3 separate regions of the Homo sapiens genome follow, and all the other regions are linked to region 3. Evidence: fine-mapped expression QTL. A gene starts in region 3. Each other region holds a variant in brackets. All regions are shown on one strand. Distances are from middle to middle. Region 1 holds the start of LOC124902939 (a long non-coding RNA gene). Region 2 holds the start of LOC100240735 (a long non-coding RNA gene). Region 3 holds the start of HOXC4 (homeobox C4).

Region 1 (8,174 bases), 36 kb after region 3:
GGCAGGAGGGGGTTGCTGGAAAGGGGAGGGAGTCCGGGGATAGCACAGCACTTTGTTCTCCTGGGCGAGTTCGCTGGTTTGGCGGGTTTCTGACGCAGGGTGGCAGCAGACAAAACAAGTAAACAACTCACAGACACAATAAACAGGAGCGGCTGCGGCGCCGTGGCAGAGGCCGTGGGCTGGGCGAGGGGCACAATCCTGGAGTAATGTCACCCCAGTGCCTGGGGTGACCAAGGCCCAGAAAGCCTAAGGCTGCCCTCCTTGAAGGGCGGGAGGAAGGTGGAAGAAAGCTGCACACCTCTTGGTGCAGCCTGTCTGGACAAGAGTCTTGGGAGGAACCCGATCACCTAGAGAGAGTAGCGGAAAACCCCTCCAGCCCCGCTCTGGTCCCTGCTTTCTTTTATGGGGTTTTCCACTGACATTGATATTTCCCCTCTGCTCTGTCTTTTTGTGTCTCTGGAAGGGAAAAAGGCTGGGAAAGGAGGCCCATCAATTCTCAGCCTTGGTAGCCCATACTCAGTGCTCCAGGCCACAGGCAGCGGGTCCAGCGTCCTCTCCCGTGCTGCCCGGACCAGCCGTCTCCCTGACCAGGTCTTGTCCTGGCTCAGATAGCGACGAGGATTAAAACGCAGTTCATCCAGTAACCAGATCTGGGTATTTGGGGGACCTTAGAGAACTCCCAATCTGCCGCCACGGATGCAGGCAAATCGGGCTGGGGCGGGGTGAGCGGCCGGCTGGGGCAAGCAGGGGGAGAAACAGATATTCACTGCATCCCTACCCCTTTTGGCTTGCCTTTTCCACAAGCTTCTCCAAGCACCCTGGCCAGCAGCTGCCCCAGATCACTGTCCAGAGGCCACCTTATTAACCACTCTGATCCCTTCATCGCTCCAGTGAGGCTTCCAGCGCCAGGGCCCTGACTACTCCGAACTGCTTGCAGCCCCACCATGCCCGTGAAAAGAATCCCGCAGAACTCAATTTCAAGACAACTGGTCTCCCTTGTAAAATAATTTCTAAGTTGGGAGAGTTTGCCAGGAGGTGTGGAGAGAAAGCAGAAGGGATTTAGTATTTCCCCAGTCCAGCTGCTTGGGCAACAAAAGCAATAAGGTCTGAGAAAGCCTTTATGGCATCCATTGGTTACTGGAACCCGCATACTCCGATTCCAGTGAGCACATATTTCCAGCAGAGCATGCACAGAGGGCCTGCTCAGTGCACCCGGTGCCTCCATGAGCCCACTCTCATCTAGTGAGGACTAACAAAATTTTGCATGAACATAAAATGGTGTTTGAGCGAATATAGGCATGGTAATATACAATTAACCACCAAGGAAATATGAGTCTGTATATATTCATGCATAAGCCTGAGTCTGTATATTTAAGCCTGTATATAATAAATATATAACACTCCCAAGCCTGGTTTCAGAACACAGCCAACCCAACAAGGTCGCCTTCTCCAAACAAGGTCGCATTCTGTCGGGATCACAACTGTCAGACCAGGGTGAGAAAGGGTTTGCTCTGCCCAATTCTCCTTAGCTAGGAACCAGCACATGAAATACAGCGGATGGCAGGGCTGACAAAGCCCCTTATAAGGGGGGCAGGCAAGCCTAAGGGTGCCCAAAGAGTGGGCTCAGAGGGGGAGGCTCCAAGGAATGTTGCCAGGCCCTGACCCACAGATTCAGTGTCTCTGCCCCGGGTGTGCAGAGTCCTTGAGCCAGATTCTATTCTCAGCCACCCTGGCTATTATTAGATAATCACAGAAGGGCTCTCCTGCAGGAAGGACCACGTCAGCAGGGAATGTGGCCTGCAAGGAGGCTTAGAGTTGCCACTGGTGGGTCCTCTTGTGCTTCTGTTTGAATGCCAGAGAGGGAGAGAAAGAAGGAGAAGGGAAAGAAAATCGAAAGTAACTGGGAAGCAGAGAGTTGGTGTTGGAGTCCACTGGGGTCCAGTTTATCCCCTGGCCAGAGTGGAAAATGAAAACAGAGCGCCGGTCGCTGCTGCTATGCCTTCTCTGCTTGCCTCTGTCTTGTAAGGATGGGTCTAGGGGTGAAGGGCATAGGATGGGGGTGGGGGAGCTGCAGGGCTGTAGCCAGGAAGGGACAGAAAATCAATTAAAATATTATATAAAGACACCTCAGGATGGTGCTGTTAAGCGGCCAACCTCGAACTCTAGCACCTCCAAATCTCGCTGTGGGTACACTCAGTGAGGTCGTTCTAGGATTAAGAGAAATACCTCAGCCTCGCCCAGGCCCGCCCCTCGGGTGGGAGGGGGCCCTTCTAATATTCTAGGTGAATCTCCACTGGCCTGAATGGCCTTCTCTGGAAAAGGTTTTCTTTCGGGGACGGACAAAGGACACTTGTGTTCCCCCCCATCAGCGGCCATCCACAGGGGCGGGGGCGGACAAAATGCAGGCGAAAGAGAGAAATAGAGGCCTCACCGGTCGGCGATTCCCACATTACTCCAGGAGAAAGGCTCCCTTTTTCGGGCCTCTCGGGCCCCTCTTGTGTCCCACCGCACTCCCTTTGCCCTTTTCAGGTCCCACAGACTCCGGGTTCCGGCCTGCCGCAGGCTGGATCCGCGGGGCATCAGCCACTGGGCCGTGCCTGAGCGGCGGGAGAGCGCGCGGCAGCCTGAGCAGGCGGCGGGCTGGGCCCATTTGGGGAGAGCCAAGCGCTTTTCTCGATCGTAAACAAGGAAAGCGAAATTAGCCCCTCGTCAGACGCCTCTGCCGACACACAAGTCCTACTGGGGGTGGGGGGGTGGGGGAGGGGGAGAGAAAATGCCATTTCTTCCCGCGGGAGAATACCTCAGAGGCCTTTATGATGGCTGCGAAAGGGGAATTTAGCGGGGGCAGAAAAGGAAGGGAAGGGGGTTGTGGGGGGAGGGGAGATAAAATTCACCGTCAGCTCTGGCCCAAACGGTTTGATCTGAATGCAAACTGTATTTTTAAAAATTTGATAAAAACAGGTTTCTTCCCCCATCCCCGCCCCCCCACAGGCGACGGGTCAGGGTTTAAACAGGAAATCGTGGAGCGATCCCCTCCCCCACTGGGACTTGGCGCAGAATCCCAGTCGCGCCTCTGGGAGAGGGTGGGGGTAGAGGGGGTGTCTTGGCTTAGATTAAGGTAAGTCTGGCCCCCAGGTTCTCTCGGACCTCGTCTGGAATATGTTCCCCCACGCCTCCGGGTGTGTCTGCCTGGGTGTGTAGGCGTTTGCGTGTGCGTCGCCGTTTATAAACAGAAATTCACACTTATGGGGCCGCCTCGGAGCCTCGGACCCAGGCCGGGGAGCAGGGCGGGGTCATATATCAAACTGCAACACATTCAGGGCCACGTACATTTGGAAGAAATTAAGCCACTGTGTTATGAAACCATATGCGTCGGGTTAAGACTATACAACAGGCCATTAGCACCAATTATTAGAGAGATCCCGAGTGCCCAGGACCCTCCCGCCGCCCCAGGCTGACGCCTCTACCCCATAAGCCAGCAGCCCCCGGAATCCTCACTGCCTCCACAGCACCTAGGAGACTCTACCAGGAGGACTGGGCCTGTCCCCGCCCAGCCTAGGGCCTTCCCCATTTCCACCTCCCCCCGAGGCGAGGCAGGTCCTAGCCCAGAGCAGCCATGCGTGGCGAGCGGGCATCCCGGTCCAGTGGGCATCCCGGCTGGGATGGCCGCGGCTGGGGGTGAGGGGCGCCGGACCCCGGAAGGGAAAGCCGGTAGGCCTCTTTTCTCTGAGCACAAGATGGCTTTTGAGTACAGCATCCCCCACCCCCACCCTACAACCTCCACCCTCCACCCAACGCAGGGCACCTCCCACCCTTCCATCCGCCCGAGTGGGGGCGGGAGCAGGGGGTGGGCAGACGCTCTCCTCTCGGCTGACGCGCACCAGCCACCAGCCTCCCCCCTAATTGCCAATTAACAGGCCCCGCCGGCCGCCTAGCTGCGCCGGCTTCCTGCTCGGCGGCCCGGCCCTGGGCCCACACTGCGCATGTGTGAGCTCTAGCAGTCGCGCTCTCTGGGAGGGAGGGGGCTGCCAGACAGGGAGGGGAAGCTGGAAAGTTTGTTTGGGGGTTGGGGGGCTAACTTTGCTTAGGGGGCAATGGGCACAGCCTCTAAGTTCTCTCTCCTGCCTGGAGCTTGAGCTTCCAGTTCCGCTCCGACCCAGTTCCATTAGCCAAGAGACCGAAGATCTATAATAAGCAGGTACTGACACAGTGGGCAGCAGAGAGCTGGCGCCCTAGACCGCCGGCTTGAGCCCCACAGGTGCTGTTCCCTTGCCTCCCCACCCCCAACTTGGCACACAGTGACATCAGGACAACACAATCGCCCCACTACCAGTTACCGGTATTCCAGTTTAACCCCGTTTCTCTCCCCCCGCCAATTTTCCTCCCCATAATTAACTACGCGCCCACCCTCTCGCCAGCCCCCTCTTCTCCCTAACCAAGAGAAGCCGCTGCTGTCCTATTCTTGAAACCGCCA[C/TCCAGCTAC]GGACCATTAGTTACATATTTGAACCAATAAGGAAACACTTACCGAGCGCTGCTGTCACTCTCCCTCTCTCCCTCTCTGCCTCTCTCTCTCCCACTCTCTTTCTCGTCTTCCCTCATTCTGTGCCGCTGCCGAGCCTGTCTCAGCTCCACACACACACACATATACTTTATATAAATTCAAAAATAAAAATAATTATAATCATCCAAAAGCCAAACAAAATTAAGGAGAGTTGCAAGAAGGGGGCAGGAGGAAGAGCCTGGGAGAGAGGAGGGGCGGAGGCATCTGCAGCTCCCAAGCTCAACTCCTGCTCCTGCATTCCTCCTGCCCCTTGGGGGCCAGAGGGTCGGGAAGGAAGAGAGAGATGCCCTCAACTTCTGTCTCTCCCCTCCCATCCCCACCCTCCCCAGCTGCCCCCAGCTTCGGCAACTCCACCTGGGAGGAAAAAAAATTAAATGGGGGAAAAATAATTATTAATCAGATTAATTTAAAAAAAATACTGCTAATGAAGGGAGCGCCCAGGGCAGGTTTCCCTGGCAATGGTTAGGCTCTTACAGGGAGGACTGTTCTGCGGAGCGCTCGGAACGGACAAACCACAATAAAAAGTTCACGTTCATGGATGGAATCCACATGACTTCTTGTGGCCAATCCAACTTGTGAGTCGATCGTAAACTTTTATTACTCAGCTGTAAATTTTCTGCAAACAACCGGGAATGCGATGCATTTGTGTAGCGTGTGCAAATGGGCGCCGCGGTCGCCATGTTTACCCAATTCTCTCATAGAGGGAGCATCCCCGGACCCCCACCCCACCCCTACCCCCACCCACCGCCCACTCCCCACGGGCCAGGCTGCTGCAGGCGAGCGCAGAAAGAGCTGAGGGCGGACGCCCAGGCGAAAGAAAGCTTCAAGCACTGAGGGTCGGTTGCCTCTCCTGGCTTGCCGAGTTTTAAATATTGTCCTTAATAAATGGGGGCATTAAGGTTGGATCAGGCGGAATTCAAAGCTTTGCAAAGATTTGTGGCCTTGAGGCAGTGATGGCTGGTGAATTGCAGGGATTGAAAGGGTGCCTCCCTACCCCTACCTTTTTTTTTTTTTTTTTTTTTTAGTAAGAGAACAACATCCCCTCTATGCCGTACCCCTGAAAGCTCCTACTCCACCCTAGACAGGAACAGTAGTGGAAGACCACTGGCAGCCACCCAACCAAACCTGACCTGGAGTGGTCTGAAGAACCTAGGGGACTAGACCTACCCTGGGCAATCCTGCAGTGCAGCAGGAGAGGTGAGAATTGGGGTCAACTTCTAGGACCCTCAAAACGACCCACATCCCCGGGGTCCCTTTCTTAGAGAGAATGACATTTTCCCCCAAGACCATCCCTAGTTTCCCTTCCCAGTTCAAATGGTGGCTTATTTGAAATCTTTTTACAATTAAAAATAAAATTAAAGCCCAAGATCTTGGTCTCTACTTCCTTTTTGCGGGGAGGGGTGCAAGGCAGTAAGCCTTTTGGATCGTGTCAGATTGCCCATACCCACCTGCCTTTCTCAGAAAAATTTCCTGATTCAATGTCTGGGCAGCTGGGATGTACTACCGAGGCCTGAAAAAATAACCTTTTACTGCCCTGAATTCCACCTTCTGTGCTAAAATTTCGAGCAGCCTGTTTTTCCAGACCCCTAATTTTGAAGGTGAGTCCAGAATAAATTCCCCCATAGAGACTATTTGCCGGGGGAGGGGTTGCAGGCAGGTCACTCTCCCCACGGGCTCGAGATTTGAAGGCCGGCATCTCTCCACTTGGTCCCGCATCAAGCTGGCATGGGAATCTCAATGGTTGGGTGCCTCAACCCTGACCAAGAGGGGATACCTCATGCCTTCCCCAGACTTCCTCCATAGTAAGAAAAGCAGTTCCCTAGGCCGGATGCAGGGACCTCGTTTCTTTTCACAAACCCACCCATAAATTTTATAACAGGTAGTTAAAAATTACGACAAGGAAGCGCTGGCCCAGCTTTTCACAATGGGCAGCGGGGAGAATGGGACGGCGCTGCGGGCAGCTCACCGGAAATTTTACTTCTAGACTGTGGCACAACCTGTCCTGAATTCTCCCTAATTGGGCGGGGTAACTTTCCCAGCCAGCAGGCAGTCATTAGGGCATCTTATCTGGGGAAGATAAGACTGGGGAGACCAAACCACTCGCCTATCCAAGGGTCCCTCAAGGAGCCCTTCAGGACGCTCACTACCTCTCTCACCCACCCCCAGATCTCTTGCAGGTCCGCACCTTCCTTGGCTGATGCAATGAGGGAGTGGGGAGGAAAAAAAATTTAATCCAGAGAAACGAATTTGCCCCCCAACTTAATAGCTGCATTATTCCAGCTCTACGGTTGAGATTAGAATAATAAATTCAAGGAGCAATGAGCGAGATGCTTCAACTCAGCATTTTGAAAGATACTATTTTTCACAAATCACAAATGGCTTTCGGAAGCCACTTTGATTGGCTAATAAAAAAGTAAAGAATGGGAGAGAAAGTCCTATCTGCAGCAGCCGAATGGTCCCCATTCCGGTAATGGGACGGCGGGAGCATTTGGGAGGACGCGATTCTAAAGAGAGCGCATCCCGCTCACAATTACGTTCCCCCATAAAACGGGTTTTTACCTCCATTTCTTTCCAAACGAGAAAACAGAGGCGGTGGGCAGGAGGGGTGGGGGAGCGGGTACTGCATGAGGGGGTGGCTGGGGCTCCCTCGGCTTAGCCCTCTCCATGCCTGGCATCTCGAGTAAAGCCGGGCGCCAGACGCACCCCGCCCTCCGACGCGCCGGGCTTGGGGCCACGGACATTGCTGAACAGGACAAGGGATAAATGGCACATTTGGTGTGGGGAAAAGGCGGCGAGGCCCTTCGGAGCCATTTAATGCTGGGTTCATTCCGCTAGGCTACTGGGCCAGATATTTTTATTAATAGCAATCATAATTCCACGTTTAAAAACGAAACGGGACCTCAGCCATCCCTCGGAGTATGGAGGACACGCCTGTGGGAAGGCCTGAGGTCTGAGCGAAATGGCCTCTTTTCTGGCTTCCCTGGTGGGTAGCCGGTGTCTCCCACTGAGAACAGGTTACCTGGCTGGTGCCGCTGCTCACAGCAGGGACCCCAGGTTAGAGAAGATTTCCCGGAGCTCCTGCTCAAAGCTGCCCCAGCTGCCTGCAGCCTGTGCTTCCAATTCACAGCCTTTCTCGGACTGCAGGAGTCCCCCTGTGAAGGAAGCCCGACTCAATTCTCTACTCAGGCCCGATTTTCAGGCCCGGTTTGCGTGGGGACCAGTGACTGGGACCTGGGTGAAATTCCACAAAACAAGAGTTGGCCTGGGCCTAGGTCTGGGAAAATCATTGACCAGGAGCTAGACAGATGAGGGGTGGGGAGGACAGAGAGAGAGAGAGAGAGAGAGAGAGAGAGAGAGAGAGAGAGAGAGAGAGAAAGAAGAGAAGAGAAGAGAAGAGAAGAGAAGAGAAGAGAAGAGAAGAGAAGAGAAGAGAAAAAGAAAGAAAGAAAATCTGGCCTCAAAAATATTTCAGCCTTCGGGGGTCTGGTTTTTAAGACCAGAAGATCCCTCCCCTCCCTTTTCCCCTCTCCTGACTGAGTCAGAAGACTTGTATCTCTGGAATTTGGGATTATTTGACCAGAATCTTATTGGCATAAACAGAATTTTTAAGTCCAGGACTCT
Region 2 (8,174 bases), 28 kb before region 3:
GCCAGTTCCAGGGGACCCTCTGGATGGGCTTCCTACCTGCCTCCTGGCTTGGGAGAGACCAAGGAATGTTGGCGTGGCTTGGAGAAAGAGTGAGTGAGGTCTGGGCTGAAAGATGAGATGACTCCATGGACCACCCCCTCGTGGAGCACAAAATGGTGATGTGCTGGCAAGAGCCACTGGCTCCCTCTGGACCAGACAGGCACTGAGAGATCCATGGGGGCTGGGCCCTCAGGTGTCCTGTAGAAAGTGGTAGTGTTCTTAGAGCAGTTTTCAGAGCAGCCCCTTGGCCTCAGGGAGGGACGCAGGGCTCCTTTTCTGTGAGAGAGAGAGAGTTGGGGAAACAAGGAGAGAGGGCTTCCCATGGCCCTGGTTTCAGGGTATTGACCTGGGTTTGAATAATGGAGATAAAACTTGTAGGAAATAACAGGTTTAAGCCACTCTCCCCTCATTTCCTACTTCTGTCTCTTCCTCTAGGTACAGCTGTTGGGAGCTGCCTCTCCTGCCCTCAATCTCCCTGCCTGTAGTTCCAGAGGGAAGAAGAGGGGGAAAAAAGGATGAAGAGAATTATTTCAGTGCTGGGGGAGGTGAGCTTATAGCAGGGATTTAGATGGGAATTACCTCATGGGATAGGAGCAATTTTCTCCCTCTCCAGGCCTCTTACAGATGTGAAACAACTGGCAGATCTGACTTTCCCACCCCTAACCATCGGAGGGGATGATGTGTCTTGAAACCTGTGCCTCTCGATTGAGAGGCTGGTGGGGGAAAGAGAGGTCAGGAAAAGGGGCCAGATGTGTGTTCAGGGGTCCCCAGAGAGTTGAGGGAGACTAGCATCTCCTTAGGGTAAGGAAGGCAAAATGCCCATTCCTGATCCCAGATTGCTTAGATACTGTGCCTGGGTGTCCTCCCACCTCGCCTTAATTCCTGTCTCCACACACAGCTTGGCCAAGTTTCTTCCCCTGTTGGAGTCTCACTCCCAATCCCCTACTCTATCTCTCCAGGAGCCTACAAAGCACTTTGAAATCTGAAGTTTGTGGGAGGTGGCTGTATTGCACAAATACTCTGAGGTGCAACATGACTTGACTGGTAATGAGGCAACCATCCCACCTAGGGCAGAGTTCAAGGACTGCCTTCAAGAGGGGCTGGCCTCAGTTTGCCTGTTACAGAAGCCAAGGGCTAACAGAGACCGCCCTCTGCCTCATAAAGAAGGAGATAAATGGGTCCACTGGAGAGCAACGGTCACAATCAAGTCTTAATGATGAATTAATAATTCATAATTACCCCAGACTTGCAGATAAGCACAAGCCCACTGGAATTATTTCCCAGGGAGGAACACAGTCAGAAAGGGTAGGAAGGGGACTTCAGTACAGACATTACTTCCAGAGGCCATTAAGTTCATTCCTCTGCTTCCCAACCAGAACCTGGAAGAGATCCATTAGCTTCCTTGGCTGATTTCTCCTAACAGCTACCACCCCCTGAGCTTCTAAACAGTGCCATATTGCCCCTCTGTTCTTCATAAGGCCAGAGGACCATTCCTGCCAAAGTGACCTCAGAGCCTGGACTCTGGATTTCTGGGGTCTCTCTGTTCTCTGCTCCCCATTCTGCTATTTACATACGAGGTCCCCTGTAGGAGGGCCTGGTGCTAGCTGTCCCGGCGAGATGTGGACATCTTTCTGGCTCTTCTCCTTCTCTTATCTAAGTCCTCACACAGTGGGAAAATACCTCTCCAACGCTATGTAGAAAGAGAAGCAGGGAGTGCCCCTTCTAGCGTGCATGCCTTTGGTTCCCAGATCTGGATTTGAGGGGCTGGCTCTATTTCTTAAGAAGACATTTACCTAGCATCGATCATGGAGATCGGGCCTAAATAGGGCTAGGGAGGCACACCCAACTCCAGACCCAGCTCTCTGCTGTTCCCCTTCCCAGTGCACACGATCCCAAATTCCCACTCCAGAAAAATTTTTAAAAACATATCTTAAAAAAACCTCGAAGAGCCAAGCAGACCCTCAGCTTCAAGGTATCTCCTCATTCCCTCTCTCTCTCTCTCTCTCTCTGTCTCTCTGAATCTACAAAGAAGGAGTGAGTTTTGTCTCTCCAAGTACTCAGAGCCTTAGATCACAAAGGGGCCTTAGATTCTGGTCTTTAGGAGATCTTTAACCACCATCTCTGCTGTGGCACGACCTTTTTCAAAATGCTAGAAAGAAGAGAGACTGGCTCTTAGACCAAGGGGATTTGGGATTCGAAAGGACTTCCAATTCCAGTTCTATAGATTTCCTTCCCATTAGCCTCTTCATGTGCATCAAATGTAAATGGCAGGCTAAACCTTCAGGATGAAGAGAGTTGAAAGACTGCTGCCTAAAAATACCCTTGTCCAAATCTGTGGGTGCAGAAGCACATTGAAAAGCAGCTACCCAGCCTGGGGGTGTGGCACATGCCTGCAGTCTCACATACTTAAGAGGCTAAGGTGGGAGGACTACTTGAGCCCAGGAGTTTGAGGCTTCAGTGAACTATGATGGTGCCACAACACTCCAGCCTGGGAAACAGAGCTGGACCCCATTTCCAAAAAAAAAAAAAAAAAAAAAAAAAAGTAGTTACCCAAGTAAGGTGGATGATCAAGTACACCCAGTGAGAAGCACACAAACCTTACCCTTTACCCAAACTCTCTCCCTTACCTGGCCCATTTCCGGTCTCTAGAGGAGGATCAGTTAGGGGGTGTGACCCAAGTTACCCAGATAATTAACGGTGGAAGCACGAGTTGTTTTTTTTTTTTCCCACTCCTTTGGCCTCTAAATATGAGAGATCTTTACATCTCTTGCCTAGCTCCCTCTTATTCTCTACCCTCTCCCCAACACGCACACAAATCCTAGCAACAAAAAATCCCAAATATAGGAAGACAAACCTTCCTGACCTACCATTTTGGCCCACCTGCAACCCCTGTCTCCCGCCCCCCCCCCCCAATTTTTTTCTCTCCTGAGCCTCTGCTCTTCGCTTCTAAAATAAAATAAAAAAAAAGAAGAAGGAATTTTCAATAGTCCCACTTGTCAAGCGAAGACCATCTTTTAACCTTCAACAGCAGCGAAAGCCGTGTGAACTCTCGGTGAACCAAGATTGAAGTCATAAATCACGCGTACAAAGGCGGCTGCGGAGGCTGGCGCGAGCTGCTGCACCTTTAACGCTTTCTGGGGCTGACAGGCGGCGGCCCAGCTAAAGTTCACAGCGCCAGGGGAGGGCCCGCCTCCGCCTCCCCTCCCGCCCCCGCCTCCCCTCCCCCAGCCCGGCCCCGGCCCCGGCCCCGGCCCCGGCCCCGGCCCCCGGCCCCGGACCGGCCCGCCGCACGGCCGCCTGAGCTGCGAGCTGAGGAGGCCCCTTGGCTGTTCCCGCAAAGGGCGGGGGGCTCATTTTCTCTACTGCCAGCCCGCTCCATCCTGGTCGTTTATTCCTTGCCTTCCCTCACCCCCCACCCACACAGCCTGCTGTATGTAAATAGGCAAATAGATCTACACGGACACAATAATTTAGCTCGTTTGGTCTTTGGCATTTTCTACAAGACCCCAAGAGATGGACTTTCCTTTCCCCTTCCTCCTTTTAGAAATGGCATCCTTCATCTCTGTCTATGCAGGCCCAATTATCCAGATCCTCGGGGCTCCAATAGGGTCTGAGTCATTGGAACCAGGAACACCTGGCTGAAACATGCCACATAATTAGATTTTCTTTTTCTTTACCTTTTCTTTCTTTTTTTTATAAGAGGGCCAGAATTAGCCTCTTCGACTGGGGC[A/G]GAGTAGCTGGGGTGTGGAAAAGGAACACCTTCATACAACTTCCAGCTTTCAGCCCCTTGGAGAGATCTCCAAGTTCCCCCGAGCCGCCAGGACTTCCTTTCCTCGATCTCTCGGCCGCCTTCTCCTCCTTCTCCGATCGTTTTTTTTCCCCTCCCCCCACTGTCTTCTCTACGGTTTAATTAAAGTTCAGCGACTCCACTTGCCTCTCCTCTCATTTCTTTCGGAAAGCGGAAACCAGACGACCCAGCGGCCACGGGACGAGCCGCCCCAACTCAACCCCAGCAGGACGCTGGAGGGGCCTCCCTCGCCCGCCTGTCTTCGCCGGCGCTGGTCTCCCGCACCCGGGTCTGCAGTCCCTCCGCCATCTCGCAGGTGTGCAGCCGCTAGGCCTGGGGGATCCGAATGACTGGGGCTGGATAGGAATGCCTTCGTGTTTCCCAAGACCCCCGGGCCTGCTCCACAAAGTTTGAAGGGTGGGTACACCCCGACCCAGGCAAGTTGCTCCCCCAAACCCATGACTGACTAATCTGATATGACAAAAGCCCATGATGGATTTGGTATATGTTAATTCACAATGCCCTTTCCTCCAGAATTTAACTATAAGTTAATACACACCGGAAACCACGCGCATACACGCTCCTTAATGGGCTTAGGTATTAGCGAGTCCTAACGATGCATACAAATGTGCTCTGCGCTCTGTAGGCCCCTCAAGATTTATGGGCCTTGAGCTCTCTGAAGCTGTAAACAAGGAGAAAAAAAAAAGAGAAAGCGAAAGCGACTGGGGGGAAGAGACAGAGGCCTGACTCGCCCCTCCAGGTTGTGGGAGAGAAGGGATTCTTTACGTATTTTCCTTTCCTTGCAAGCTCGGTGCGTGTGGGTTTTGGCGTTGGTCTGGGGGTGGTGTTCTGCCTGAATGCTGGTGTGCATGGGCAGTGTGTTGTTTGGGTGCTGGGGTAGGATGCCTGCCTCTTCGGATTGCTGTGCAGGGGCCTGAACACAGCAGGCATTTGTGAGCATATATGCGTGAGTGTGCACTGTGTTAGGGTGTGTGTGTGTGTGTGTGTGTGTGTGTGAGAGAGAGAGAGAGAGAGAGAGAGACAGAGAGAGAGAGGCAGGCTTCCCCCTGGGCCAGGCTGCTGTCCCCTGAACGGTGGTGAACAAATCTCTAACAACAATCATAATAACAATAAATAATGAATAATAATAATAAAACAGTAGTTAACAGTCCCTCCATAACAGAATAACAATAAAATGCAAGAGGAAATATTTTGAGGTGGAGACAGAAGAAGGAGTCAGGATCACAGCATCTGAGGGGGAGATAGGAAAGGAAGGGAGGAAGAAAGCTTCTTAATATGCTCTTGGCGGGGCTGGGGTTGGGAACCCCTTTCCCAGACAAGGGACAGAAGAGGGGAAGGAGGGCCAGGAGGCCACTCTTTATTGCTTTTTTTCTCAGGCTTCTGCTTTGTGTGATCAGGGAAGGGATCCCACATATGGGGATGGTTAATGGCTTTTGGGACTCTCTAGGAGCCCCTGTTTTAAGAAGGAGGCCAAATGTGCAGGCTCAGGCCAAGGGGCAGAGATGAATGAGGCGATGACCACAGCCTTGATCCGGCAAGAGCTCAGAGATGCCCGGGAAGACGGGAAGACTGGGGGCCCGAACGGAAGCAGAAAAACACTTATGGCCGCTGGGGAGTTGGGAGAGCCAGGCTGGGGCTTCGGCAGGCCCAGGGAAAGTTCCCTTTCTAGGCTCTTTATTAAAAAATTTAGAAGGAGGAGTTGAGGCGCCTTGAATTTTCCTTCGCGAGTTTGGAGACTAGCCGATTTTTCATGAAGCAAGCAAAGACCGCGGTCCCGGATCCGGCAACATCTACCTCATTCTCTCCAGGTACAGTTTTCTGGTCATTTAATTAGTTTGTTTTCTTGGGGGAGATGGGAATCACAGGGGTAGAGATAGTAAGTTTGCTAGAGAGGAAGCCACCCCACAGTTTCGGGTCTAACGAAATCCCTCCTTTAAAAACAATTGTACCCCCAATAAAAATAAAATTAAAGAGGAATATAGAAACACAAATTAGCCAACTTTTTTAAAAGAGAAAAAAGAAAAGAAAATCATCATAACAGATGAGCGTGAGAACTTCTAAAAAATTTGTCACAAACCCTTTCAGAGGTCTGGATTCTTTTTCAGTAGCCGGTGACCCATTTGGTCTGAAAAGAGAAATACACTATCCAGTGAGTCACTTATTTAAAGCCAGCACGCGCACACACACACACACACACACACACACACACACATATATTCAGAAAGCCCTGGGTTCCTTCGCATTTGAGAACAACACCGGGTGGAGGACGCTGCGATACCTAATCGGACAAAACAGCAATAAAATAAGACCGGTGGAAGCGCTGAGCGCAGGGTGCAGGGCTAGGGCCCAGGTTTTGTGTTCCAGGCCGCCGGCGAGGCAGCGGCCCCGGGCGATGGGGCGCCGGGCGATCAGGCACCGGCTGGGGACTCCGCTCGGCCTCCGCAGCCTGGCCTGCAGCCCCTTTCCCCCAGCCTCTGGGCCTCGTGGGCTCTCTCCGCTCCGACGCCTGGTCGGGGCTTCCCTGTTGAGAGGGTTTTAGGCCGAAGGGCCAAACGACTCAAGCCAGACTCTGCTTTTTCATTTTTCTCCCTTAGGCCTCTCCACTTGCCCGAGCTCTCAGCCACCAGGAGACAGAAGGAAGGGACTTCTGGGCTGCGTTGGGAGCGGGCACTGTCCCCTATCTACTCCTGCTCGGTTTCCCAAAGTCCAGCGACATCCGACCCTCCTGGGGGGAAAAATACCAGTACCCAGACACCTCTGCACCCTGTTATATGACTGGGCTTGCTTCAGGAATATCTTACAAAGAAGAAGAAGAAGAAGAAGAAAGAACAGCTTGGAGTCATGTTTACATCTAGTTCTACTGACCGGTTCCCATCTGGAGAGTTTATTTATAACTCCCTCTATAACTCTCTGTTTGGAGGCACTGGTGGCTCTATTGACAGACTGATGTCTAGGAAATATTGCTCTATGTCTAACCGTACCTAAATGTGCTGTGGTTGTATTTACAGATTTATGTTTGAGGGAAATATAATTATTTCCATTGTATTTGTGCATATACAGTAGTTATAGGAGCAGATTTATATATGGGAAAATATACGACTCTCTTACAGCCATCCGGCTTTATGTACATGTGATATCCTGACAGATTTATATCTCTGAACAGCTATATAGATAAAAACGTATATTGTTAGAATTATGTATCAGGAGATATATACTTATTGATTGTGAAATAGAGTAGTTAGAGCATTCACTTAGAGCCATATATGGCTATGGAGATATTTCTATATTATTATCACTATATATAGGCATATCTATTTATAACTACATAGTTATAAAAATAGACATAAATAATTATAGTCCTATATGTGCATGCTGCAATCTCTCTCTAGAGTTATAGACACTTTCAAATATAACTCTATAGAGAGATCTGTATGTATATAAGGTGTAATTATCTTGTGATGTTTTTACGTTGGGACTTAGGCCCGTTTGTCTAGAACAGACATCTTTATATGTAGGGGATGGGAGAGACTTGTTCACAGATATCTGCAGAGGGCCAACTGGAAACACTGTATCTGCCCTCTAGGAAACCAGCTAGGAGAGTTGTGTACTTATGGAGGGATGGAGTTACAAAAGGGTAAATAGAGCTCAGGGAGCCTTAAGGAGGGGAGGTGAATGGAGGGTGGGTGGGCTGGGTTTGAACAGATAGTGGGAGGAAAGGGGTAAACACCAGCACCCACCAGAAGGCGAGAACCGGTTTTGTGAGGGGCTGGCGCAGACGGCTGTGGACAAGGAGCTTGTAAAATGGGAAGCGGCGAACAGTCCCACCACCTCACCCTGAGACACTCTCCACCGAGGAAGCAGCCTTCAGTTTGGCTTTTAGTGCGCTGTAGGATAGGGACTGTCGTGTCCCTCCTGTAGTCCTAGAGCGTTTCTGTTGAACCCTAATTTTTAGGTCTCAAAGAGTGGGCTTCAGAGATAAAGAGGTTTAGGCAGGGACAGGGCGAGGAGCGTGGGGTGTACTTTCACTTTCCGATAAGTGAGGTAATCCAGGAAAGTGAGTTAATTTGGCCAAATAAAGCTTGTTTTTATCTGGGCCTCCTGTGCCTTGGCGGGGATGTAGGATGGGACCAGAATCTAGTGGACTGAGGAGTGAATTTGCAAGTATTGGGCCTGCTCTGATGGGGGCTTGGGGAGGTTGTCCTCACCACCCGCCCTCCTTCTCTGAGGCCTGAGTGGCCTAATTCCCTCTGGGCACAGAGGGACTCCTTCAGCTCCCTAACAGTGCTGCCCTGGGTCTTTTCAGGGAGAATTTGAGTTTAGGAACAGG
Region 3 (8,174 bases):
CAAGACTGCTGGAGCTTGGGGCCCTCGGCCCAGACTGGCCCCCCACATCCCAACCCTGCCATGCCATTCTGGGTTGCCAAGTCCAAGGCAAAGGAGAGCTTTGGGGAAAGGGGAGAAAATGGAGCCCACTGGAGGGAAGGCCAGAGGCCAAAATCTTCAAACTCAAATGTAAGGGATTTTAGTTTGGGTTCATTTGTCAAGAATTATGGATTTCTGATGTTTCCCCTTTTCAGACCAGAAAGAACAGAAGGAGACACATGCAGAATGACCATGTATGTGAGGGAAGAGGAAGGAGAAGAAACAGAAGACATAAAGAAGGGGAAATAAAATAAGTGTTCTGACCCTTTTATGCTGCTTTTCCTGAACTAGAGTGTCCCTTCTGCAATTTCAGGGAGAAACTTAGGAAATAAAATGTAGTAATTTTCCCCCTCCTCACTCTCATCTCTTCCACTTTCAGGAGGAGAGGGATAAACTCCCTGAAAGCCACGCGAGCAAACTTAGGAAAGAACCATGGATCTCAATTTACCCCTTCCCTGCTTTCCATCTTAGCTCCTTTACAGGCTTGAAAAGACACCCTGGTGCCCTTAGACCTTCCTTCCCTTTTCCTAAGCACAGCTAGAACCCCCTTTTTCTGTTCCAAGGGCAATCGCCTCAAGACGATAGGGGCTACAGTCAGATTTGGCCCCTAATTCACTTGATTACATAAAAAACTCCAGATAATTGTTGGCCTGCCTCCTCATACTGTAGGCAGCATGTTTTGTTGTCTCCAGGGTACCACTGAGGGAGGAAAAGTAGACCTAAAGGACTAAGAGACTCCCCCCAACACACACACGTGTGAGGGCATGCATACACACACACACACACACACACACCAAGTAACAACCAGCAAGTGGTTCAAAAGGAAATAAATTCAAAGCACACCAATGTGATTTGTACAACTTAGTCCTGCTGTTGCCTTTCACTCCAGAATTTGGGGATAGGGGGAAGGGGTATCCCTGGCTTCCCTGCATACCCTAGATCTCTTCTCCCTCTGTCTTCTACTTCTAATTGCCTTTCTTCCTGAAATATGGATAAATCGTCCGAGAAGAAGGTCACCAACAGCCCTCCTCCCACCTTCTCCTAACAAACAAGCAAAAAATTAAGCAGGCCTTGCTAGGGCCTGGATCTCAGGACCAGAATTATTTGGGAGCCTTTGGCTTGAATGTATTCAGGTAATCCAGGCAAGATTTTTTGTTTCTTTTTTAGCCCCAAGGAAACAAATTTATTTAATTAATTTATTTCTTTACAGCCAGAGAAACTTGTTCAGGCTATCCCCATACGCTGCCAGGACCTGGGAGGTTATAGGAAGAGAGGGTGGTCCTTGACTCTCCCTAAGTCTCTTCGCAACACCTGGCAGGTCCATAATAAAAGTTAGAGAATAAAAAGGTAAAAGTCTTTTATTATCTCCAGGCATCAGCCTTTGAGGCCTATCCATAACAAGGGTACCTCCCAGGCCTCTGGCCAGTCTTTTTTCCAAGCCTAAACAAACAGAGAAGGCATCCTGACAGGTGACTTTGCTGCTTCAGAGTCACCAGCTCAAAACCTTCCTTCTTTTAAGAACTCAAATGTTGAGGGGATGTCTTCCTTAATCCCTCATCCCAAAAGAGCCCTAAAAGATGAAAGAAAACTATTCTCCTTCCCACTCCCTAAACTTGCCCCCTTGTCTACAAAGTAGGCAGGCCTACTCAGCACAGAGGAGGGAGAAGGGAAGAGAGAGAAAAGACAAAAAGAAGAAACTGTACCTAACTATAGAAAAGTGAGACACTCCCCACCCTCAGCTCCACTGAAGTGCCCCCAGAGGAGTCTGGTCTCTCTGCAGACTCAGGGGGAAGGAAGGGGACTGGAGAAATCAGCCTTAATCTTCCACATCCCCTCTTCTGAAGATCCCATACCCCAACCCCCTTGCTTGTTCTTCTAAGGACATTGGAAGACTAATGGAGAGCTAAGATTTGTGTGTTTGTTTAAAGTAAACTTAGGCAACTATAGAGAAGATGGGATGTTACCAGGCCAGAGAGGGAGGGGAATAAAAAGAAACCATCAGACATTGACGTAAAACTAATTCACATCCACTGGTTTATTATTGATCACGGGGCATTTCACATCGACACTAAAATTCTTTATTGCAAGTTTTACAATAATCAAGTAAATTCAGTCCAAAAACACAATAACCACGATAGGGGTGGGGAGAGATTCTACCTATAGACTGCCTCTCTGAACTGAAAGTTCATTTTGATTTTCTTTTGGCTCCTCAAACTGAACAGCTCTGAGAGGCTCTCCAGATGCATTTAGCTTTGTCTGCTGTCTTCGCCCCCTCTCCTCCCACACCCCCCCCCAACAATAATACAAAAGAACTTCATAGCTTTGTTCTCCTTAAAATGACTTCCCCCTCACTAACCTCCCCTGGTGCATTTTCAATGCAAAAGGCCTAAGGAAAGAGGGGGGGAAGGAGGAGGAGGAGAAGGATGAGAATTGGCTTTAAAATTTCTTTCCTTTTTTCTTTTCCTCATTTCCCCTGAAATTCACCCAAGCCAGACCATCACACCTTGCAATATATAATTTTTGCAGCTTTTTTTCTTAAAAAATAAATAACCCCCCAAAATGGCCTTTTAAAAAAAAACACCCAGCAGGTACCATGCTAAGACAACATCACATGCTTAAAAGGGTCCTTAACAGTGGGAGGGAGAGGAGGGCAGGGGGCTTGTTTGTTTATCTGTTTTGTCTGTTTGGAACTGACAAGGGACAAGGTGAGAGGAAGAGAGAAAAGAACCTATATATATATATATATATATATATATTAAATTCTATAAATAAGAGTCAATTTGTGTGTGAGGGGAGGGTGGGGGCATGGGGTGGGGGCAGGGGTGTGAGTTATGTTTTATAACCTGGTAATGTCCTCTGCCCGTTGCTGCTCCGGCGGCGTGGCGCTCTGGGAGTGGTCTTCAGAAGTACCCGGGGTAGCTGCCGAAAGGGTGCTGGGCGCAGCGCCGGCCGGGGGTGCTGACCTGACTTTGGTGTTGGGGAGTCGGTGGTCCTTCTTCCATTTCATGCGACGGTTTTGGAACCAGATTTTGATCTGCCTCTCAGAGAGGCACAGCGAGTGGGCGATCTCGATCCTTCTCCTTCGGGTCAGGTAGCGGTTGTAATGAAACTCTTTCTCTAATTCCAGGACTTGCTGCCGGGTATAGGCTGTCCTCGAGCGCTTGGGTTCCCCTCCGTTATAATTGGGGTTCACTGGGGGGAGGGGAAAAGCAAATAGTGGGGTTCAGAGGCAGCAGGCTCCCCGCCCCCCACCCTCACCCCATCCTCAGCTCTGAGAAACAGGAGGAGGGAGTGGTGGAAATAAAGTCATCAAGCTTAAATGGGTTATAAAGAAGTTGAAGGAAGCTGAAGACTTTGTAGTGTAATAAGAGGGGAATCCTCATTGTAACGACACTGAATTATTTATGCGCCCTTAGAAAGCGAGCATAGTTTTCACACATACATAACAGATCGTAGCACATGGCTCGGACTGCCCAGAGTAGCTAAGCCATAAAATTTATGGGGGATGTAATTACCCATTCTCGCTCGTAAATCCAGTTCAATTGTGCTAACCCAGAGTCGCTCCTGGAGAGAGAGGGGGAAGGAGAGAAAGGAGGACGGGGGCCAGAGGGGGCCGAGGAGGGTGGGGAGCGCTAGGGAAGAAGGGAGGGAGGGGGGGAGCAAAAAGCAAAGTTGCCTACCCGTGCTAACGTGAATTTTTTTCATCCATGGGTAGACTATGGGTTGCTTGCTGGCGGCGCTGGAGGGATGGTCGGGGGCTGGCTGGCTGCAGGCTGGCGGGGCTGGGGACGGGGAGGCGGAGGCGCCTGAGAGAGGCGCCGGCTCGCAGAGCGACTGTGATTTCTCGGGGTGGTGGTGGCCCGCCTGGGCCGGCCCGTGGCCTCGCGAATTGCCGGGCCCCTGGAGACTGGTGCAGCTATACTGGCGCTCAGGGTAGCTAGGGCGCGGAGGCGGTGGTGGGTACAGCTCCTGGTGGTGATGCTGGAATCCCGATTCCCTGGTCCGGCCGTAATATTCCGGACTGTGTTCAGGGATGTAGCTATTTTGCGAATATTCTTCGCATGGAGGAAATTTCGGATCGATGTAGTTAGAGTCCATCAAATACGAGCTCATGATCATTAATTTCTGGAGTGGAAAATAATTTTTCTCGCTTTGTCGTTTTTCTGCTCCATAAAGCCCTCCTACTAGCTAGCGACCCTGTAAAGTTACTTTCACCATGTGACTCCTCCGGCCAATCACACGGAGCAACCCAGTCCCCGGATAAGGAACCGAATCGCTTTATTCAAAATGTATCCAATTTTTTTGTGTGTGTGGTGGTGGTGGTGCTGGGAGGCGGGGGTGGGTGGTGATGTGGGGTTAGCTAGCAGAGGTTGGAGTGCCCCCAGTGCACATCCCGCCAGACTGACAACCCTCCCCTGCAAAAGGAGATGGGAAGCTCCCGGCTCCCCTCCAAAGCCCGGGCATTGGGGGACTGTCGGGAGGCAGTGATTCAGCCCCCGCCCAGGGTCTCCCCTCAGGCCTCTGCTGGGCCCCGTGGGCCTCGGCTCCTGAGCTTTTCCAGAGGTCTCCATTCATGGCGATCGTGTCTCAGTCTGTGTAGGTCACGGGGCAGCGCCCCTCTTTCGCAGGAAGAGGAAGTTGAATGAGGACTGGAGTGGATGTTGGATGGGGAGGGGCCCAGGCTGAGCCGAGGAGGCTGGAGAGCCTGGAGTGCCCCCCATCCAAGGATACCAGAGTCCAGCCCCTCTTCCCCATACACACTCACCCAACCCTCTGGCCATGCGGCCGGCGAGGCAGGGTCCCAGCTGGACCAGGCAGGTAGAGGCAGCGGGATGCAAATGATTCTGACGTCATTTCTGGAGGTCTGGGGGTTGAGCCCCCGCTGAAGAGAGACAGGAAGTGGTTGGCAAAAGCAGAGTTCAGAAGTCTCGCCTTCCCCTGCTACCCACTGACCCTCCCTGCCCCAGCCCCAGAGCAGAGGATCTCTTCTACTGCTGGCTTCTGTTTCCACTCCCCATTCAGCCCGGCCTGCTATTTTCTGACAATTATCTCCAAGGAGCTGGGGCAAGGAGGAGAGCTTTCTGCCAGGAGTCAGTGCCCTGTGATGGTGCCCAGCCAAGATCCTGAGAGTTCTTTCTCTGTCCCCACAGAGGGCAGACCTAGCTAAGAGGGAGGCCTGTGTGGGTAGAGCCTGCTTGCTTCTGGCTAGGAGCTGTATCCATGTAACACGTGTGTTTACATGTAAACACGAATTCCTAAAGGCCAGCTCCAGGCTGCTTTCCAAAAACGGAAGGCTAAGCTCACCAAGTTGGGGAGGCACGGCCAGCCTTTGGGGTCTCCAGCCCATTCACACCCCCTGCTCTCTCTCTGCCACCCACTCACAGTAATACTCTGATGGAGGGGGGTGACAGGGCCGTAGAGGAGGGAGGGGGCCAGGAAAAGCTGCTTTCCTAACCACCACCCCCCCCCCCCAGCTAGGGGTGGTCCTGTCATGCCACCGATTCCAATTAACTGATCGCCCATAACTCAGAGTTGCGGGGGGTAGCGGAGGGGAGAGCCCAGGGAGGGAGCCGGGTCCCCTTGTTGTACTTGATAACAATTATAGTTTAAAATCATAGCTTGCCAGGGCTCAGCTATATTTTACTTGATAACAATAAAAGTGACACATAAAGTTAACTGTTTATGTTTTATTTATTAGACTAAATCTGCCAGCGGTGGTAGGAGCGCTTGCCTCGTCGCTACAGCTTTTATAGGGCTGTAAAACGTCATAAATCAGTCTCGCGGAATCGCCCGCACTCTTTGTGTCGGCGGCGGCGCAGGGCTGGCGGCCGCTGGCTGCCTGCTCCCTCCTTTCCACGAAAAGTCGTAATGTGATTTTTTTTCCCTCTGATTTTATTATTATGATCGCCGCCGTGATTAGTCAATCTACCTTTAATTCGCCGCCCTACGCTACCTCCTCCCAGCCCAGCCTGGTTGACACTTGAATAAGTACCTTTTAAAACGGCATAACAACTATTTGAGGGTTTAATTAGAACATCTGCAATTAAGGGAATGAGGAGGGGAAAGGGAAAAAAAAAATAAAGCCCTTGTGAGAGGGAGACTGAAGGCAAGAGATTCCAATCCTTTTCTCATCACCTTTGGGATGTTGGAGAGGGTCCCCACTTCCAAATTAGGGCTTCCCCAAAGGGCTGGAATGAGAGGGAAGCTGGACCCACAGCCGTGCCCAAAGGGTGCGGATTCCCGCCTGGGCCCTCGTTGCCTTCCCTCCTCCAATGCTTAGGCCCCCAGCCCCACCCCAGGCTCAGCAGGGCCAGGGCTTAGCTCCCAAGGAGCTGGTGCTTGGTGGTCCCTGAATACTCTCTCTCCAAGAGGACAGTGCCCATCCCCACTGTAACCAGGCCAGGTGAAGGAACAGGAGTTCCCCAGAGGCTGAACACCTCTAATGGAGATTCCCAAATTCTCAGAGTTGGCTGAGAACCCTTGCCCACTCTTGTCCGGAACTCTCTGCATGTGAGGACAGGCTGGTTTGGTTGGAGAGGAAGTTGAGACTGTGAGTGAGGGGGCGGAGGAAGGCTACTGCTTGGTTAATAGTGGTTTGGGTTGTGTGGGGTTGTCTTAATCATTGGTGGTGGGGGTGGGTTCATTATAAATTGCTGGAAGAGGGCAAAGGGAAACCAGTGCTGAATCCTAGTACCTAAGTCTGAACTGTAGTCCCAGATGGCTCCACCGGGAAGTCCAAAGCTCAGCAAACTTTGGTGCCATGTGGAGAGGGTTGATGAAGAGGGAGGAAACCTTCCCGGCCCCACTCCCAGTCTCCCTTCTAGGCCTGTACCTGGATGCGGCTGCCTCACCTGGAAAGGTGAGCTGTGAGCCTGACTCTCATCCTCTCAGCCCTCACACTCACCTTTTACCATCCGTGCCCTGACGCTAACCCTCTTTTCTTCAATCTTCACCCTCCTGTACTTGTTAAGGAGTCCTCCCCAATATGTTGCCTGTCACATCCCACCCCCGCCAGGTTTCTGAGCTTCTGCAGGGGGGTCAAGGAGACTGACTTTGGGCCAGTATAAGTAGTAGACACAGAGGGTTCAGATGCCCCCAACTGAATGTCAAGTCTGTCTTTGGTTATTATGGTTAACATATATGCGTGCACACTATTAATATTTATTAATATATTAAATGCCTCTTTATGCAGCTATAAATATGTAGAGTTTTCATTCCAGGTTCGTGCAGCTAATTCAACATGCACATCCAGAAAGTGAAATCTCCAAGATTCCCCCAAATGTGCCCACACTCATCTACATCATTTACAAAACAACAACAGCAACTCTCTTTGGGCTCCTATAGCTTAATAGCAAGGAAGTCGCCTGTCACATGGGTAAAATACCACACACATACACACAAACATTTTCACCTGGATATTATTACAAGCACAGAAATAAAATCCGTTGGAAGGGCTTTTGCACTTAGCAATGGCTTAATTGGGAGGGGGTGGGGGTACTAAAGCAGCTCTCATCTGTGATGAATCCTTGTATCTGGTCCTGTCTTCTTTTGTGTTTCACCCTCCTGCCTCCCGCCTTGCTGGCCCAGGGGCTGCACCTCTGCCCTGTCCTCAACCTCACTTTGCCCCAGTTTTATTTATTTTTATTTTTTCTGACTACCTTTTGCCAGCATCCAAATGCTCTCTGCAATTGCCCCTCCACCCCATCTCCTTTCTAAATCTCGATTTGGTTTCTCTTTCGGAAACACGTTTCAGTACAAAGCGCTTCCCTTCTGACATCGCTGAAGAAAAATATGTGTCCATTGTGTGTGAGGCCTTATTGTGCCTGGATTACCATACTGACCGTTGGATAACCCATATTCCTCCCCTCCCCAGTAACAAGCTGCCGGCTGAGAGAGCTCAGCGGCTCCATAGATTCTCTGCTGCATTAAAATCGTACCCCTCTCTGATTTTTCCAAGGGAGAAAAATAAATGGGTGAACCAATTCAGGATTTGGAGGGCAAAGGGAAGGAAAATGAGGGTCATTCCTTTCCCTACTCTTTGAAATGCAGGGTTTATGTGTGTGAATGTTGTTGTTGTTGTTGTTTTAGGGATTAAA

What was found. PIP is the estimated chance that this variant, and not a neighbour inherited with it, causes the effect.
Region 1: its variant is fine-mapped to the expression of HOXC4 in unexposed skin (GTEx, PIP 0.99). The same link has a PIP of 0.9 or more in subcutaneous fat and tibial nerve.
Region 2: its variant is fine-mapped to the expression of HOXC4 in whole blood (TOPMed, PIP above 0.99).

What each region holds. Positions count from the first base shown.
Region 1 is chr12:54,013,758-54,021,931 of GRCh38, reverse strand. It overlaps LOC124902939 (a long non-coding RNA gene), which reads left to right and starts at 4,185. Exons shown (of 2, transcript XR_007063323.1): 1 at 4,185-5,128; 2 at 5,579-5,919. It also overlaps a transcript of HOXC4 not described here, a transcript of HOXC5 not described here and a transcript of HOXC6 not described here. RefSeq lists enhancers at 1-203, 271-3,478, 3,410-3,479 and silencers at 3,520-3,789, 3,860-4,029. The variant C/TCCAGCTAC (reference allele first, on the strand shown) is at 4,475.
Region 2 is chr12:54,077,708-54,085,881 of GRCh38, reverse strand. The region is part of intron 1 of FLJ12825 (a long non-coding RNA gene); the gene reads right to left. It overlaps LOC100240735 (a long non-coding RNA gene), which reads left to right and starts at 4,059. Exons shown (of 3, transcript NR_026658.1): 1 at 4,059-4,243; 2 at 5,538-5,655; 3 at 6,442-7,043. RefSeq lists an enhancer at 4,526-4,745 and a silencer at 6,043-6,337. The variant A/G (reference allele first, on the strand shown) is at 3,770.
Region 3 is chr12:54,049,946-54,058,119 of GRCh38, reverse strand. It overlaps HOXC4 (homeobox C4), which reads right to left and starts at 4,285. Exons shown (of 2, transcript NM_153633.3): 1 at 3,759-4,285; 2 at 2,090-3,270. The coding sequence starts at 4,197. The coding sequence ends at 2,915. RefSeq lists enhancers at 1-469, 5,071-5,230, 4,526-5,507, 5,508-6,489 and a cis regulatory region at 3,994-4,494.